Homo sapiens: one gene and its partners. The protein of the gene in region 1 interacts with the protein of each later gene in a pairwise test. Each region holds a gene or a part of one and is shown on either strand. Other genes may lie near its edges. The genes, in order: SCAMP5, SH3GL1 and HSD17B13.

What was found.
Region 2: the proteins of SCAMP5 (region 1) and SH3GL1 interact in binary tests that used the Homo sapiens proteins (3 or more experiments, as listed by UniProt).
Region 3: the proteins of SCAMP5 (region 1) and HSD17B13 interact in binary tests that used the Homo sapiens proteins (3 or more experiments, as listed by UniProt).

What each region holds. Positions count from the first base shown.
Region 1 is NC_000015.10:75,015,972-75,019,622, forward strand, and holds part of SCAMP5 (secretory carrier-associated membrane protein 5), read left to right. Parts: intron 1-621; coding exon 622-778; intron 779-1,898; coding exon 1,899-2,000; intron 2,001-2,446; coding exon 2,447-2,564; intron 2,565-2,817; coding exon 2,818-3,012; 3' UTR 3,013-3,651. UniProt on the Homo sapiens protein: Required for the calcium-dependent exocytosis of signal sequence-containing cytokines such as CCL5. Probably acts in cooperation with the SNARE machinery.
Region 2 is NC_000019.10:4,394,028-4,397,678, reverse strand, and holds part of SH3GL1 (endophilin-A2), read left to right. Parts: intron 1-3,651. UniProt on the Homo sapiens protein: Implicated in endocytosis. May recruit other proteins to membranes with high curvature.
Region 3 is NC_000004.12:87,316,338-87,319,988, reverse strand, and holds part of HSD17B13 (17-beta-hydroxysteroid dehydrogenase 13 isoform A precursor), read left to right. Parts: intron 1-1,552; coding exon 1,553-1,660; intron 1,661-2,765; coding exon 2,766-2,897; intron 2,898-3,651. UniProt on the Homo sapiens protein: Plays a pivotal role in hepatic lipid metabolism. In vitro, it catalyzes the oxidation of a variety of lipid substrates, including 17beta-estradiol, retinol, retinal, and leukotriene B4.

The DNA of each region.
Region 1 (3,651 bases):
TTCCAGCCGCCAATGCCTGCCCCATTTAAGTGCAAGGTAGATGGCACAATGGCTAGAAGAGATGTTTCCACAAGGCCTTTTATTTTTCCCTTTCCATGCCCATATCTCGAAAGAGAAAGTGTAAGGTCGGTTTCCCATGTCTTGGGCTTGGTGATTGCTGTGAGTCTGGGAGGGTCAGGGGCTGAAGCCATTCTTGACAAGGACAAGAGCATTTCTACCACCCTGAGGCTTTGGGGCCCTTCAAAGGGGCTTGCTGGGCAGAAGCTCTGGGTTCTGGAGGCTGTGCTCTCCAGATTTCTCAGGAGTGGGTGCTGGGGTTGAGGGGTGGGGGTTGGTTCGAGCTCCCAGCTTGCGTTCTTACAGTCTTTACTCCTCTGCGTGTGTATGTGTGTCTCCTGTGTCTCTGTATGTATTTGTTGGTACGGGTTGTGGGTCTTTTGTGTGGGTGTGAATCTGTGAATGTGTCTGCATCTCTCTGTGCTTGTCTGCGCTGTTGGCCTGGCTTGATTGTGGGTCTCTGTTGCGTTACTGGTGTGTGTGTGCCCATGTCCGGGTGCTCATGTGTCTCTCTATGGGCCTGGGTGTCTGTCTCTATGTGTGCATGTGCTCCTGGGCCTGCAGTGAACAGCGTCACGCTGGCCGTGAACCTGGTGGGCTGTCTCGCGTGGCTGATCGGAGGCGGGGGAGCCACCAACTTTGGCCTCGCCTTTCTCTGGCTCATCCTCTTCACACCCTGCTCCTACGTCTGCTGGTTTCGGCCCATTTACAAGGCCTTCAAGTAAGTGGTTGGTGCTATCCGCAGTGCCTAGCCGTCTCTGCCCATCTCCCCTGTCTCTTCTCCATATCTTTTCTCACTTCTTTTTTTTTTTTTTTACCCTCCCCCAAACTCACTTTCCCTTGCTCACCTTTGGCTCAGATTGCTAGGTAGGGCCTGGGCTTTCTGGGGGTGCCAAGTTGAGGTGAGAGGGCTGAGAGTTAGTTTCTTTCCTCCTCACTCTACCCTTGGGTGGGGGAAATATAGACAGACCAGGCCTATTTTTTCTTCTGTCATCCCCTTCCTCAGGCAGCTGCATGTTAAATTTTGCCTGTGGGGCTGCCTGTCTTGGTGGAGCTGCCCATCCTAGTACCTGTGGGGCTAGCCGACTTGGTGCCAAGGACACCATCTATCCATGTGCCAATGGGACCAGCCAGCCATGTACCATTGACACTGTTCATGTGCAATGAGGTCATCCAACTGTGTGCCAAAGGGAACACCCATCCACATATCAGTGGGGCTTGCTGTCTTGGTGCCAGTGGGTGTCTACCTAGTGCCAAATGGCATTTTCAATCTTTGTGCCAATGTGACTATTCATCAATGTACCAAGGCTATCTGTCTTGGTGCCAGTAGAATATCCATCTCAATGCTAATGGGGCCTTAAATCTCTTTGTGCCAATCAGGCCATCCATCTAAGTGCCAATTAGCTACTGTTTTGGTGCCAATAGGGTGTCCATTCTAGTTCCAATGAGACTTTCTATCTCTGAGCCTATGAGACCATCCATCCATGTACCAGTGGAGCTAGCTGTCTTGGTGTCATTGTCCATCCCCTTGACAATGAGACTATTTATTCCTGCCTCAGTGGAGCCATCTATTTCTATGCCAATGAGGCCGTCCATCCATGTACCAGTGGGTGGTCTGTTCATGGGAAATCCCTCCCTGTGTAATGTTGCAACACACAGGTCTACCACGTGGAAACTTGCAAAGATGTATGGGTAGAACTAACCCCTTCTGACCTCTCAATTAAGGCCTTTAAATGTCTTCTGTCCATTATGCACTTAAACTTGGAAGGGCTTGGGGGCCTTGAAGGCAGGGAAGCCCTGGCCCTCTGCCCAGGTGACGGGAGCCACCTCCTCTGCCGCAGGACTGACAGCTCCTTCAGTTTCATGGCATTCTTCTTTACCTTCATGGCTCAGTTGGTCATCAGCATCATCCAGGCCGTGGGCATCCCAGGCTGGGGCGTCTGGTAAGAGGCAGGGGTGTGGCCTGGGGCTGGCAGGGGTGGCGTTGTGGGTGTATCTTTTGCTTACCTTTGTGTGCTAAGCTGTCTAGCCTATGGGGCCTGAGTGATGGGTTGTTGGGAGAGTGAGAGGATTCGGGATAGTGTAGTAGTACAACCATAGCATCAGAGGGAAGGAGAACCTGGCAGTGGTTTCTTGGGGGCTGAGGGGTGTCAGGGATTATAGGAAAACCTGGGGGAAGAAAGTGTTGTATCTGAAGAGCACCTCTGAGCCACAGGGATGGGGTCTTCTTGAGCCACTGGCACAGGTTCTTTGGGTATCAGTAAGATGGTCCCTCTGCATCCAGTGATATGTTTCCTCCCTGTGGCAATGAGACGGTCCCTTCCTCTAGCGGGGGGCTCCTGGGCACCTCTTATCCTGCCCGCAGCCCCACACTGGCCTCTTCCTGCAGCGGCTGGATTGCTACCATCTCCTTCTTCGGAACGAACATTGGCTCGGCGGTGGTGATGCTAATTCCCACTGTCATGTTCACAGTGATGGCCGTCTTTTCCTTCATCGCCCTCAGCATGGTACGTGGTCCCCTCAAGGGTGAGAAGGTGGCTTTGGGAAGGGGCCATGTTCTGAAACAAGCCCTCCTCCAAGTTGCAAGAGGATCCCGAGGTCTTCCAAGGGACTCACTCTGGAATGGCCTGCAGGACTCTCCTACAGAGGCATTCATGGGGAGGGAGCACTGTTTTTTTTTTACAGATGGGTCCCATCTATTTCCTGGATGGGCTGCCTTTTCTCTTTGATTAACCCTTCTTTACGCTCTTTTTCCTACAGGTTCATAAATTTTACCGGGGAAGTGGGGGGAGTTTCAGCAAAGCTCAGGAGGAGTGGACCACAGGGGCCTGGAAGAATCCACATGTGCAGCAGGCAGCCCAGAACGCAGCCATGGGGGCAGCCCAGGGTGCCATGAATCAGCCTCAGACTCAGTATTCCGCCACCCCCAATTACACGTACTCCAATGAGATGTGAACCAGCCACGCCTACCAGGTGGCAGAGCTGGGGCCATTGGGACAGGGGGCTCAAGCCACATCGTCATTTGTGGTTACCAAGCAGGGTTCCCCCTTCCCTTTTCTCCTTCCCTACTTTGTACAAAGGACCAGAGTTATATATATATATATATGTATATGTCTGTACCCCAGCCCCCACCTTTCAGATTCTGCTCTTGGCACTCAGCTGTGGGCTGCACGTGGAGCTGTCCCGTGCGGTAGTAGCTGTGTCTGTGTCCCCTCGTGAAATAGTGTGCAGTGGAGGTCTCTTGTGGTGCTAGATGTGTGTTTAGAGCTAAACCAGCCCCCACCCCCACCCTCCACCTGCCCCTCTTGCCTCTGGCCCCTCTGACCCTGGCCCAGGGACCCCTCACGGGGCCAGGGGAGGCATAGCAGAAAGACTGGCCCCTTCCTAGGGTTATGAGCTGGAACTGTTTCTACTTTCAGTCTTCCTGGGAAGTAACAGTACTTAGCACTCTTGGTGGTGGGTGGGAGGGTGGGTACAGGCCAGGGATATTCCCTTGCTCTTTTGATCCCTCCAGGCCTCGCCTCCTTCAGCCTCCTCCTCCCTCATCTGTTCCCTGATGTCACATTCCCTGTGCAATCTTCCCTTGCCCATGGT
Region 2 (3,651 bases), on another chromosome or scaffold:
CTGGGTTAGACCTTGCCCAGCAGGCGTCAGACCTTCACCTGCTTGGTTAGAGCACCATAGAGTACTGCTCCCTAGCAGGAAAGATGTCCTCAGAGGTCTTGGAGGAATTCCTGGGCCACTTTGTTCCCTGCTATAGACAGGTCTCTGGAAGCCACCACCCCCACTCCCAGCGATCAGGGCCTGTGCCCATATTGTCCTGAGCTGACACCCTCTTTAGAGGAATGAACCAGGCCTCTTGTGCCGGCCACCAGGACTTTGTCTCTCTCAAGGGAAGCAGGATGACCTGCGTTCAGATCTGTGAATGGCGCCTTGAAGCCTGGAAAGGACAGTGTGGTGTTAGCTGGGCTTAGGATTGCCTATTTCCACATCCCGAGGCCTAGTCCCAAAGCACAATGGCCACAGCCCACCCTCGGGGCTGTCGTCTTGGCCTCCTGGTCAATTCTGTCCTGAGTCGTGCTCTTAGAAGTCACCCTGGCTGCGTTCCATGCTCTTCTGTGATCATTGCCATGGTTCCCTCTGACATCTCAGCTGTTATCTGGACGTATCCGACTATTTGTGTCTCTTTTTTTGTTTTTAGTCTAATAACAACTCTTTCACCCTCTGCTGTGCCTGTTGGAAAGTGACATCTCTCGGGATCTCTCATTACGTAGTGATACAAACATTTATTGAGTTCTCACCATGTGAGCAGGCAGTATGCTTTATACCAGTAGGTCTCAGCTGGTCTTGCTTATCCGGTCTAAGGGTAAAAAACATTCCCCCTTTTACACAAAAGGATTAGGGGACATTTATCTTCCTGTAAAACAGGGCCAGTTCTGTCCTCCAGGGGACATTGACAATGTCTGGGACCTTTTTGGTTGTCACAGCTTGGTGCGGTGCTGCTGGCTACTAGTAGGTAGACGATATTGCTGGACATCCTCCGGTGCCCAGGGCAGCATCTCCCCACTGCCCCCAAGAATTACCTGGCCCCAAATGTCAATAGTACCAAAATTTGAGAAACCCTGCTTGAAGATTTGGAAAAAAAATGAGGATAATTATACCAAAACAAAGGAACAAAAAAATCCCCACTGAGCCATTCTTACGATTTTCCTAGTTTGGCCAGGTGTGGTGGCTCACGCCTTTAATCCCAGCAGTTTGGGAAGCACTCCAGCCTGGTGGATGAGAGCGAGACTTCGTCTCAAAAAAAAAAAAAGTAAAATATAAAATAAAACAAAGATTTTCCTAGTTTGCTAAACACAGATAGCCACATGTGTAGTTTGTTTTTGTTTGTTTGTTTGTTTTTGAGACGGAGCTTCTCTCTTGTTGCCCAGGCTGGAGTACAATGGCACGATCTCGGCTCACTGCAACCTCCGCCTCCTCTGTTCAAGCAATTCTCCTGCCTCAGCCTCCCGAGTAGCTGCGATTACAGGCACCCACCACCATGCCCCGCTAATTTTTTTGTATTTTTAGTAGAGACGGGGTTTCACCATGTTGGCCAGGCTGGTCTCGAACTCTTGACCTCGGGTGATCTACCTGCCTCAGTCTCCCAAAGTGCTGAGATTACAGGCATGAGCCATGGCACCCCGCCCCACAGGTAGATATTTACATAAAACTCAGCATCCAGACCCTAAGGTCGAGCCCACCCTCAAGTCTTTAGGAAAATTCGAGTGTCTTTCAGTATCTGGGCTTCTTTTTTAGGGGGGAGCTAGATCCACCATAAACATTTTATGTGTATATGTACACCGTTTATCATATACATATTGTGACAACTGTATATATATATATATATTTTGAGACAGAGTCTTGCTCTGTCACCCAGGCTGGAGTGCAGTGGCGCAATCTTGGCTTACTGAGACCAACCTCCGCCTCCCGGGTTCAAGCGATTCTCTTGCCTCAGCCTCCTGAGTAGCTGGGATTACAGGTGCGCCACCACACCCGGCTAATTTTTTTTGTATTTTTAGTAGAGACAGGGTTTCACCATGTTGGTCAGGCTGGTGTTGAACTCCTGACCTCATGATCTGCCCGCCTCAGCCTCCCAAAGTGCTGGGATTACAGGTGTGAGCCACCGTGCCTGGCCTAAACAACTTGTATGTATACATACACTGTTTATCATATATACGTATTGTGGCAACCATATGTATGAATAAGCCTTCAAAAGGTGAGCACCTGTATTTCCTGGTAATTGACAATGTCAGTTTTGTGTGATGTAGTCTCTATGGAATTTCCCGTACATATGATGACAGAAACAAAGACTGAAACATGGTTCACAGAGAAACACAGAACATACATGACTCTCAGAATAACCATGTCTGCTGCTGTGTAGGGAACTCTTTGAGAGGAAACACTTTCACTGCTGGCCTCAAATGCCACTATCCACTTAGGTTCTTCAGTGTGAACCTTTAATTCAAAAGTACCTTCCAGCTGATCACGAGGAACCTTTATCGCTTGCACCTGAGGAGGTCAGGGCTGCAGGGAGCCCTGATTGTAGCACTGCACTCCAGCCTGGGAGACAGAGCCAGACCCTGTCTCCAAAAAAAAACACCATTTACAGTGACTTAGAAAAGGGACAGTTTCCAGTGCTACACACAATGGTTCCATACACAGCTTAAAGGTTTCCAGTTCTTTGCTGGAACTTGATTTAATAGTTGAGAGCCACAGGCATCGGGGCTCCTGAAGGAGGGGCACGCGCCCATCAGCGCTGTCAGCCGGGGATGGCGCAGACCCCTTCCTTGGCTTGGCAATGTCGGAGACAGTTGTTATCGCAACTTTGGGAGAGAATGCTCATGGCATCGAGGGGATAGGGGCCAGGGATGGTTGCCAAGCATCCTACAATGCATAGGACAGCTTCCCCCCGCTGCAAAGGAAGAATTCTCCAGCCCTACGTCAGTAGAGTTGAGCTTAAGAAACCCTGCTTTAAACCAGGCTCTAGACTTCCAAGGGTTCTTACGGTGTCCTTTCTAAATTGATCAACAGAGGCCGGGAGGATGCGGGAGAGAGTGCTGGAAAAGATAAACTTACTTTCTAACAGGCGAGGCTGTGTTGTTGGTTCTGAGTTTCTGATCTCTCGTTGGTGATAATGGTAAGAACCTTAGTGGGTTCCAGGCTAGTTCATCTCCCTGCAAAACCTTTTGGGAACTTGTTCAAAATTGGTTTGGGCTTGAGTGGGCAGTTTGTGAGTTTTTACTTCTTGTCATGAACTGGCCATAGACTGGTTGAGGGCCTGAGCTGGGGAAAGTTGAATCATCTGGAAGAAAGCAGTAAAAAGCCGTCCGTCATGGTCCCATCTCCCTGGTTCCCTCCTTTCTGCCTGTGTGACACCCACTCCCTCAAGAGCCTCCTGGCATCCGTGCGCAGCTAGAACTGGGGGACTAAGGAGGGTGAAAGAATGCCGCTAGCGAGAGCTGCTCTCAGAAGTTCCCTTGGTGTGCTGGGGGTTTGGGTGACATTATTTCCAGGCTTAAGCTGCTAACTGGCTTCCTGATAAATCTTGTGGCCGGGCTGTGTGAGATTGAGAGTGTAACTAGGGGTAGAGCTGGCAGCTGCCTGGAATGCTGGCTTTTTTTTTTTTTTTTTTTTGCCTGAAAGGAGGGAGAGGGTTTGAACATTTGAATGGAAAGATTGCTTCAGACTGAGCTAGGAGGGACATTCACAAGCGTCACCTCCCATAGCTTTGAA
Region 3 (3,651 bases), on another chromosome or scaffold:
ACAGAGAAGAGTTTACAGATTGTGAGACGGAAAAGTATAATTTTTAAAACCTTATAATATTTTCTATAAAAGTCACCTGAGGTGAAAACTTGAAAAGAATTATAATTTTCCAGAATGTGAGTCAAGAAACATTAGAGCAATTTTATCTTAGGAAAGAGGTCTTTGAATTTAGGCTGAAAGTAAATTGCTCTGTCTCCATGTCCTATGGTTATGGGCAAGTTTGGTACATAAATGAGAAATCCATCCAGTGGCCTTGCCCATCTCACTCCCAAACACCTGAAGAATGTAATGTTATATCTCCTAGAGTAGCAGCATGGTCTCCCTATGAAAGTCCTTCTTCTTTAAGGAGACTTCTTTCCCTTCCCTCCTAGGAGGATGAGTCAGAATCATCAAGAAAAATATGATGGGCAGAGGCATACAGTTTACCATTACCACTAGTTTAGAATTACTACTTAGCACTTTACTGCCTATTACATAGTTGGTGCTCAACAAATGTATGATAAATTAATGGTTGAGTTTTTCTTTCTTCTCCATATTCATCTTCCATGACACCACGAAGAGCAATGTTTTTCAAGAATGTTCTTCAAGGTTTGAAAGTAGCCTGCTTTAGAGAAACTGCCTACTGTACAGCCTCCAACCAAGAGGAAAAGCTGAAAAAAGCATGAAGGGATTTTGTTTTGTTTTGTTTGTTTTGGTTTTAATATGAGCATTCCCTGGCAGAAAAGCCAGGGGTAATCTCATTGCAACTAGGCAATCACTCTCAAGAAATTTTCTAACAAATAAGGAGGCCAATTTTTATTTTATTTTGAGACGAAGTCCCACTCTGTCACCCAGGTTGGAGTGCAATGGAATGATTTCAGCTCACTGCAACCTCCGCCTCCCGGGTTCAAGTGATTCTCCTGTCTAAACTTCCCGAGTAGCTGGGATTACAGGCTCCCACCACCACGCCCAGCTAATTTTTTGTATTTTTAGTAGAGATGGGGTTTCACCATTTTGGCCAGACTGGTCTCAAACTCCTGACCTCAAGTGATCCACCCTCCTCGGCCTCCTAAAGTGCTGGGATTACAGGCGTGAGCCACCACACCTGACCCAGGAGGCCAATTTTTAAAAGGTTAACTAATCTTCATGTCCAAAATGAATGTTAATTGTTCATTTTGGACATGAATGTTAATTTTTTTTTTTTTTTTTTTTGAGACAGAGTCTCACTCTGTTGCCCAGGCTGGAGTCCAGTGGCACTATCTCCACTCACTGCAACTTCCTCCTCCCAGGTTCAAGCAATTATCCTGCCTCAGCCTCCCAAGTAGCTGGGATTACAGGCCCACACCATCAGGCCTGGCTAATTTTTGTATTTTTAGTAGAGACGGGGTTTCACCATGTTGGCCAGGCTGGTCTTGAACTCCTGACCTCGTGATCCGCCCTCCTCGGCCAACCAAAGTGCTGGGATTACAGGCGTGAGCCACCGCGCCTAGCCGAATGTTAATTGTCTAAAAATTTTTCTTCTCCAATGTCTTCTCCTCCACTTTTTTCGGAATTTGTTTCTTCCTAATTACAGCGCGGTGTGGAGGAAACTGCAGCTGAGTGCCGAAAACTAGGCGTCACTGCGCATGCGTATGTGGTAGACTGCAGCAACAGAGAAGAGATCTATCGCTCTCTAAATCAGGTGAGACTGCAGGTTCACAAATTTCTTCAGATTATTTTGTTTCCTAGGACGCTGACGTGGAAAATGAGAAAGGTCTTTATGACTGCCTGATTTAAATTGGATTTTAGCTGCTAACTGAAGTAGTTATGTCACCAAGGAAGGATATATACTTTTTTTCTTGTATGTAATCCACTCAGCTCTGCCCATTATTATTGTTCATATTATTAATCAATTTCATTCTGATCAGAAGTGTGAGCAGTGGCACAGAGTGACTGACAAAAGATTTATCATCAGGGAATATGGATCACTTCCTAGTTTTGTTTTAGTCCTATTAACTTTGCAGTAATTCCAGCTTCTCTTTAATTATTTCCCTTGTGAGATTTTATTTTGGTGTTAATGTAGTCTTCTGTAGAAAATGTAATATTAATAATTATTATCACAATTATTTTAAAAGAGTAAATACCAAATAATCACAATGAACTAAGCACTCTAACAAACTTTACATTTTTTAATTCAATCCCTACAATAACTCTGTAAACTTCATTTTACAGATAAGCAAATTATGACTCAGAGAGGTTAAGCCAGACCCAGGTCATGTAGTTATTAGGTTATGAAACCAGGATTTCTCAACCAGCACTTTAGACCAGGTGCGGTGGTTCACACATGTAATCCCAGCACTTTGTGAGGCCAAGGTGGAAGGATCACATGAGACCAAGAGTTCAAGACCAGCCCAGGCAACATAGTGAGACCCTATCTCTAAAAAAAAAAAAAAAAAAAAAAAAAAAAGTTTAAAGAAAAACACATTTTTAAAAAATGAACACTTTAAAAATATTTGGTCAGAATTTATATAGGAATTTATCAACATAAATGTTAATTTCACTTTACTGATAAACTTGCAAAACATGATGTGCTGGGTACTGAAATTTAGATGTTAAAAGAACAGTTTATCCCACCTTTATGACAGTGTTCCCTTGGCCTCCACGATTTGAGCTCAACAGTCTGTCTTGCCTGAACTCTGAGAGACCTCATACAATAGAAGAAAGACTCTCATCTTTGGATTATATTGGTCCCAAAACTTTGAGTTTGAATAATACACCCAGTGAAAGTGTTCTTTCAATTTCAAAAGGTGAAGAAAGAAGTGGGTGATGTAACAATCGTGGTGAATAATGCTGGGACAGTATATCCAGCCGATCTTCTCAGCACCAAGGATGAAGAGATTACCAAGACATTTGAGGTCAACATCCTAGGACATTTTTGGGTGAGTGTGAGTCAGAAACATTTCTGATTTGTGCACCTTCTCTTAAGATACATGAAACTTATAACGGAGTTCACATACTTCTGGACAGGAAACTGGCCAGATCTTTGCCTTAATCAAGAATCATTAAATTTGTTTGAGTAGAAGAGCCACAGAGTCTCTGACACAAGGACACAGAATTCAAGTGGACACAACACACCAGAATGTAAGCTACTTGGTCTGTCTTGTCCACCAGTATCTGACACAAAGCTTGGCATGTACCAGGAGCTCAACAAATGTTTGTGGAGGTTTGTTAAGGGTTGTCAGTGTACATCTTTTCAATGCTGTCACTTGTGACTTCATTTTTTTCCCTCCACACCATGATTTTGTAATGTGTCCTCATTTTGTGGAATTTTAGAATGGAAAGGACATCAGAAGTAATTACTTGGATGTATATAGGATCGAGGACACTTTTGGACGAGACTCTGAGGCAAGTGTTCTAGATCCATGGGGTGCTGGAACTGAGAAATGCAGCTATACAGACCTCATATAATTGGTTAGTTTTGTGGGAGATGGAAATATCAACTTCAACTGCCTTTGTATAGAAATTTTTATGATTAATCTTCCAGTGCCTCAATATTAGTGTAGAATCTAGGGCAGATCTGGATTCTAGAAGAAAGAAGAAAAAAAAGAGATGTGTCCCCCTTACCTTTACCAGCTCTTCACATATGTGAATTGGCTCCCATGCCCACCAAACTACACGGAGACCTCATACATT